Linked DNA regions of Homo sapiens. The protein of the gene in region 2 purifies or fractionates together with the protein of the main gene of each other region. This does not show direct contact. Each region holds a gene or a part of one and is shown on either strand. Other genes may lie near its edges.

What was found.
Region 1: the proteins of SERPINB8 (region 2) and EEIG1 purify together in Homo sapiens (affinity purification with mass spectrometry; 2 studies listed by BioGRID and IntAct, with this or other methods). This does not show direct contact.

Annotation. Positions count from the first base shown.
Region 1 is NC_000009.12:127,953,390-127,956,989, forward strand, and holds part of EEIG1 (early estrogen-induced gene 1 protein), read right to left. Parts: intron 537-3,600; coding exon 416-536; intron 216-415; coding exon 186-215; intron 1-185. UniProt on the Homo sapiens protein: Key component of TNFSF11/RANKL- and TNF-induced osteoclastogenesis pathways, thereby mediates bone resorption in pathological bone loss conditions.
Region 2 is NC_000018.10:63,967,707-63,971,653, reverse strand, and holds the start of SERPINB8 (serpin B8), read right to left. Parts: upstream 1,574-3,947; 5' UTR 1,484-1,573; exon of another isoform or gene 1,150-1,483; intron 1-1,149. Other genes in the region: serpin-like protein HMSD, read right to left, coding at 3,003-3,316. UniProt on the Homo sapiens protein: Has an important role in epithelial desmosome-mediated cell-cell adhesion.

The DNA of each region.
Region 1 (3,600 bases), on a different chromosome or scaffold from region 2:
AACCATATGCTGCCTTTATATTGAGTGCAAAGACCATCAATAAAGATATTTCTAAAAAATAACACATCTCAGGTAGGGCTGAGTGCCTCTTGCTTGTGGCAGAAAAGGGGCTGGAGGCTTCCCTTGTGCCTGTCCCATGCCACCCCCCATTCCATCCCACTGCCCCTTCACACAGCCCCTCTTACCTTGGAATAAGCCTTCCCGCCTTTCAGCTCCTGCACAGGGAGGGAGACACAAGCAGCAAGTTGACTGCAGAATCCCAGGGACCTCATGCATCTCCCACAATCCCCCCAGATCTGAGGGGAGGAGGGCAACGGGCAGAGCAACTCACCCCATTTTCAGCTGGGGGTGCGGACTCATGAGGGGAGGGGCCTATAGCCCAGCCCAGCAGCCCCACATGCGCCCTTGGCCTCACCTTGCGCACAGACACACGGAAGACACAGGGGTCCAGCAGGCCGGTGGCCGGGTTAGCACTCATCTTACACACGAAGGTGAACCTCTTTCGCCACCGCACACAGTTCTCCTGTACCTCCTCCCTGTGGGCCAGAGGCGACAGGTGAGCACAGGCACACACATCCGCGCCAGGGGACTCCATGTGGTACCAGGGACATGGCACTCCCCATTGGGACTGAGGCGGTGGGAAGCTCCACTTTCACTCTGTGTCACAAAATAGCTGTGTTTTCACCACAAGAATGTACTCGTGTAGTTGTTGTAAAAACAACAGTGAAAACGTAATAAAAATGAGACAAACACAAGGCAGGGGTGAGGTGAGCTAGGGCAGCTGTCCCTCCCCAGGAAGCCTGGCAACCTGCAGAGCCTCCCTCTGTACCCAGTGCTGCTCCCGCCACCTTGCTCTGAGACCTTGGGCAGTTCCCTGCACTGCCATTACCTCCTCCAAAGCCAGGCTCTGCCAACCGCCTCATGACCCTCACAATAGTCTTAGGCTGGACTACTCAGCCCATTTCAAAGATGAAGAGACCGAGGCTAGGCAAGCTGCCCCACACCTCCCAGCCAGTAGATAGCTGAGCTGGGCCTGAAGCCTGGTTCCTCCTGACTCCAGAGCTGCCTTCTTCATCACTAATAACAACAATGACAATAGTAACAACAGCTGATACCCACACAGTGATTCCCATGTGCCAGGCACTGTTCAAAGAACTTCACAAGAGCCAGCAGGCCCTGGAGCCTGCTCCAAGTGCCAGAGAAAGGTGGTCATGCCAAACCTTTCCAACCTCTGTATGGAGCAGCCACATCATCAGCTCAATCCCCAGTCAAAGAAACTGGGGGCCCGGAGGCTAAGACCCTCACCTGAGGCCCACCACAGGTAAGAGCAGAATGGGGATTAACCCAAGCAGTTGGACTCTGGGTGCGGAGACAGCGACCTGGGGGCTTCAGCTTCACCAACACTAAGCAGAGGGCTCTGGTCTTCTAGCCCCCCGGTTCCTCCTGAGTTGGAGAGCATGACCATGCTGAAAAATTCAGCACCCCTCTACTGGAGAGATGCTTTGTGCCCTGGGAGTGAGTGGGAGCCAGTGGCAGCAGCTCATCCAAGCCCCTCCCAACTGCTGCGGGGGCCTTGGCAGGATCTGGGGGTGGCAGCGGCACGTGGCAGAACCGAGCTCTGCATCCCCGAGCAGCTCCCCATCTCCATACAGCCTGCCTGGCAGAGCCCGTGCTCAGGAAGGGGTGGCCAGGGAAGGGAGGAGACAGTGTGAGAGACGTTATCTCCAGCTCATCCCACCTAAGCACAACCGCCAAGGGGACAGCTAAGGAAGTGACCCGAGGAGAGTGGGTTAACTGCCAGATCGAGGCCTCAGGGCAGAGGGTCGGAGAGGGCCGCAGCCAAGCCTCCCCTGAGCATCGCCAGGTTTGCTTTGCATGGCAGTCTTGCAAGGTGGGCTCTATGCCACCCCTTCTACTGCTGAGGGCACTGAAGCTCCAAAAGAAGGCCACCCTACCCGCCACTCGAGCTCATATCCCCAGTGATTGGCAAAGCAGGATTTAAACCCAGGACTGTATGACTTCAGAGTCAGGGCTCTCAGTCGCCACTTTGGCTCAGGAGCCCGGGAAAGCCTGGCGAGGAGAACCTGTGGTGTTGTGGGGCCTGTAGTACCCTGCTCTGCCCCAAGGCACCGCCCAGGTCTCTGAGTGCCAAGCAGGTGCTGGGATGAGCCACTGCAGACTGTATTTACCCAGTGATGACTCATTGTCACCAGGAGAGGGCGGGGGAACAGATGAATCAGGGAAGGTGACATTCAAGCTCAGGATAGAATGAGCCTGGGGAGTAGCCAGGTGGAGGAGACAGTTCCAAAGAGAGGAAACAGCATGAATGAGGGAGTCCCGTTTCCTTAGCCAATGAAAGCCCCTAAGCCTCACTTTCTATGAGGAGCCCCCTCCAGGCTCCACAAGGCTTTGAGGATGTGACCAAGGCTTACCCTGTGCTCCTGCCAAGGCGGTGACAAGGGTCAAGAGGGCAGGCAGACCTGGGCCACACCCTGCACACTCACTGGGGCACACCGCCCCTGTCGTGGCTGCTGTTGTGGGAGCACTGAGTGAAATGAATCCTGCAAAGTGCCTGGCCCGGTGAAGGCTCTGTGATGTCACCAGAATGCACCTAGCTTGTTAGGAGGGTGAGCTCCAACAACCCTCTGCAACCAAGACTGGGGACAAGCAGAAAGGTCAGGGCTGAAGACGGGAGGAAGGGACAGATCTAATCCCTATAGGCAGGTGCCACAGGAGTGGGGGCCCTAGGCTGGGGGCATCACTTGAGCCTAGTCATGCTGGCTCCACTTATTCATTCATTCATCATCAAACAACTGAGCACCAGTGTGTGCCAGGCCCTGTTCTAGGCACTCGAACCACAGCAGTAACCAGCTTACATTCTGGTGGGAGGAGAAAGAAGAAGACCAAATAAATAAGAAAAATACCTAGTAGTGGAAAGGAAGAACTAAAACTATATTAACAGATGACTTGATCTTTTATACAGAAAACACTTAAGGAATCCACTAAAAAACTATTTTGTTTTATTTATTTATTTTTTTGAGATGGAGTTTCGCTCTCGTTGCCCAGGCTGGAGTGCAAGGGCATAAACTCAGCTCACTGCAACCTCTGCCTCCCGGGTTCAAGCAATTCTCCTGCCTCAGCCTCCTGAGTAGCTGGGATTACAGGTGCCCACCACCAAGCTCGACTAATTTTTCTATTTTTGGTAGAGACGGGGTTTCACTGTGTTGGCCGGGCTGGTCTTGAACTCCTGACCTCAGGTGATCTGCCCCCCTTGGCCTCCCAAAGTGCTGGGATTACAGGCGTGAGCCACCACACCCGGCCATTATTATTATTATTATTATTTGAGACAGAGTCTCACTCTATGGCCCAGGCTGGAGTGCAGTGGCACGATCTCGGCTCACTGCAACCTCCACCTGCTGGGTTCAAGTGATTCTCGTGCCTCAGACTCCTAAGTAGCTGGGATTACAGGCATGTACCACAACACCTGGCTAATTTTTGTGTTTTTAGTAAAGATGAGGTTTTGCCATTTTGGCCAGGCTGGTCTCGAACTCCTGGCCTCAAGTGATCCATCTGCCATGGCATCCCAAAGTGCTGGATTAC
Region 2 (3,947 bases):
ATGGGCCAGGGACTGCTGAAAGCAGAGGGATTGTCTGCAATAGAGAAGTGGGGGCTGGAATTGCCAGGCAGTGACTGCTCACATAGGGACAGAGCACAGGAGGGCCCAGTCCCGAGGCGCCTAGCTGTTATAAATTCATACTCAGGGTGGGTCGTGAACCACTGGAATTTTAAATGAGGAGTCAGGCTGGAATGGGGAATATGACTTGTTCCATTTGAGATGCGTGGAACACACCATACCAGGTGAACCTGTAACAAAGACAGCCAAGGATGTTTGTAAACAGTTAGGGACGGGGATGAGTAGACTGTCTAGAGCCAGAGACCTGGAGCCATCAGCATCCCGATTCCGAGAGGTTCCATGAGAATGGATGAAACTACACAGAACATCTAGTGGAGGCACAAGGGAAGAAATCCACCTATTTCTGTGGAATTTCCAATATCTGGAGGTAGTAAAAGGAAGAGACAGAGGAGGGCGAGGGGAGAGCGCGCGCGCGAAACGGAGACTGAGACCCAGCCATCAGGGTGTGCTGGGAGAACTGGGGAGACGAGTCTGCCCCTGCGAGTGGACCCAGGGAAGAGGGCGCGGTCTACGCAGAGCCCGAGGCAGGGAAGCGGGAGGGGCCCGGAGAGCAGCCCTGGGTGAGGCCCTTTGGAATGGAGAGGTCTCAGGAGTGAAGCAGCAGCCAGAGGACTGAGAGTGTCTGGAAAGTGAGGAATTGGTTAAAGTAACGCCGGTGGCTGCAACAGAGAGGGGCGTAGGTGAAGAAGCACCCCCAACCCCATCCCATTTGAGAGGAAGCAGACAATGAAGAAGAGAATATGAAAGATACAGAAAGATGAAGGCAGGGGTGGAAAGAACGGAGGGGGGGGACAGGAAGGGAAGGAGAAGGTGCAACCAATAGGCTGTAAGCACAGGGGCAAGCTTGGGCGCCAGGGGAGCAGGGACTCGGCGCCTCCCCGATCTGCCCCAGGCGCCACGGAAATTCCAGGCCCCGCCACCCGCACTCCCGGAGCCTCCTCCGCAGCGGCGGCTCCTCCCACTCGCCCTCCCGGGGCTCCCGCCCAAGCTTCCGGCGCTTCCAAACTCACTGCTCGCGTCACCCCCCGCTCCCATCCGGCAGCAAATCACAGCGCAGCAAATCGCAAGCCTAGAAACAGACGCTCCCTCTCCAGGGGCAGCTTCCTATTCAGGGCGGGTCTGGGCGCACCTGTTCTCGGGACCCGGCCCTCGGCCTTCGCCGGGTCTCGCGGTGGGGCTTGGGACCCCGGCTGGTGCCAGGGCGACCCCCACAGCCCCGCGACTCTCTTTCCCGGCCGCCTCCCGCCGTCATTCTCCTAGTTCCTGCCCGCCTTTGCCTCGCTCTGATTCCTGCTCTGGCCTTCCTCCCTTCCCCTCTCTCACGCACTCCAGGGAAGAGGTGGCCTCCGCGGGAACCTGGGCACCTCCGTGCCTGCCCCGCCCGGTACCTGGCAGAGGCCCCCACCTCCTGCTGCTGCTGCTGCTGCCGCCGCCGCCGCCGCCGCTGCTGCTTTGACTATTCCTCCTTTGTAGATGCTTCACGTCCGCCTTGATTGAGGGCAAGGCTTCCGGCAGATGACTCAGAACCGTTCGATTGCTCTGGCTTGTGCAATCCCTGATTCTTTGGGCCTGTGTGGATGTCTGTGGGCACCGGAGAGAGGGCCAGTGCCTGGTCCTTGGAGGGTGGTTTTTATAAAAAGTGTACACATTGGCTATTGTCCTTTTTTCACCGTTGATTCACGTTTGACTCCACTGTAGTTAGACGTCCACCCAAACATTCTCTGAAATTGCTCCTGATAAGGATACTAATCATTTTCTAATTGCCTTGGCCAAAAAATACATCCCAGGTCTTATTTCATTTTGTTTGTTGGCGACATTTAGCCCTTTCTTCTTTGACCTTCCCAGGATTTCCAGAGCACCCTTCCCTTCTTTCCTGACTCCTTTGCTTGGTATCCTGATTCCTTTCCTACCATTCTAAGCCCTCTTCTTTTCATTATAATATGATCTTCTTGTATGACCTCCACTATATCCATAGGTTCATGTTTCAACTTTTAACTTATTTCTTCAAAATCTCTAACCTGTCTCGAGCCGTAGATGTTACCTGTGTACTACTGGACATCTCTCAGAAACCTGGGTGTGTCCCTCCGCAGTTCTTTTAACTAAATGATCAACAGTCCTGTTACTTCTATCACTTTTGTGTTCCTCCTGTCCATACTCTGTCACCTCTATCATGTCTCATGTCTCTCCTAAACAATTAATTTTCCTACCTACAGTTCTGATCCATGCCAACCTATTGCCTACTCTGAAGTTCAGGTAAACATTCCAATTCTAATTATTTTATACCTCAGTTTAAAATCCTTTATAACATCCTCTTATCCAAAAAGATAAATTAGAAACTATTGAGCAAGGAGTGTAAGCCTCTTCACGTCTTGATTTCTCCCTTCTTTTCTTTAGAGCCATAGCAAATTATTTACATTCCTTCATATCCTCTGTTCATATACATGGGGTTCCTGGCATGCAAGCTTGTCTTTCAAAATTCAGTTCAAATAATGTCTCCTGCAGGAAGCTCTCACAGAGCTCTCCAGTTTGGGAATTCTGCTTTTAAAGATGCACATTCCCACTCTGCACCCCAAACCAATTAAGTAAAGATCTCTTGGAGGAGGGAACCCAGCAGCAGTATTTTGTAAAACTCGCTCAGTGATTTCCCTGTGGAATCCTAAAAGTAACTGTTCCCAAGAACTCTCCTCAATAAGTCTTGGTGCAGGATTCACCCCCATCTTTTCTCCATGACTTTGAAACCCCTCTCTCTAGTGGCTACAGACTCACATTTGAACTGTGCCCAAACTTACCGGCTCTGCCAGTTGAAAATGCCAAGGTCACTTCCCCATTGTGCATCAATTTCTCCTTGTTGGTCAGAACTAGATCCAGACTTTGGGCCCCACTTTGTCCATCCACTCCTTTTCCTCTTTGACCAGCAAAACAGATTAAAAGATGAAAAATGCTTGTTTTCCTCCGTGAAACTTCCAGCAAATGCCTGGTGGTTTGAAGTCCTTTACAAAGGATATAATTTGGCCCCTGGGAGTTTGGTTGTAAACACAGATATCCCATGTAGGAAACACAGTGCGTGCAGGTGCAAAGAGGCACAAGATAGCACCATGAAAACCATGACGTATCCAGGCCTGCAGTGGTACAGATAGTGTGGATGAGGCACTGCAAGACAACGTCTGATGTGTCCACAGGGCCATGTCGTGAAGGCCATGTGGACGCTGTTGGTGGTGTTTCTTCGTTCCCTTGTGGACTATGGGGAAACACAAAAGGATTTTAAGCTGGGGAGAAACATAATCATATTTGTATTTACGAAGGTCCCTCTGGCTGCAACATGGAGTATATTGTAGGAGGGTACCATTGCCTGCAGTGAGGCGTTAAGGACGCAGCATGGATGAGAGATGAGGAAAGCTGAAATGAAACAGAGGCAGGAGAAATGGAGAGGAGGACATGGCCTTGAGGAATTTCCAGGACATAAATTTGGCATCACTTCTTGGACCATGAGAGGAAGAGGGAGCAGGAAGAATCAAAGATGAATCCAAGAATGAACAAATCTAATTTTTGAAATAATGCAATGAAAAGTAGAACTGGTCTGTTTTCCTAGGTAAGGAATTTGTCTGCAAGTCGATATTCACGAGGATTAATTGTATTTATTTTCTGAGTATGGACAATTTAAATGCTGGGCCCTGAAGGGAAACCCATCTCTCAGAATAACTAAAGCCCAATTTCAGAGTGAGCCTGAACAGGCTCCCCACTCCACCCTGGCCCACTGGGGACACAACAGGTAACTGATAAGGTTCCAGAGTATATAATTCAGTGCCTCAGAAACTGTCCTCAGCCTCATCTTCTGTCTTCTTGCCTCATACCTAACTTCACATCTCTTC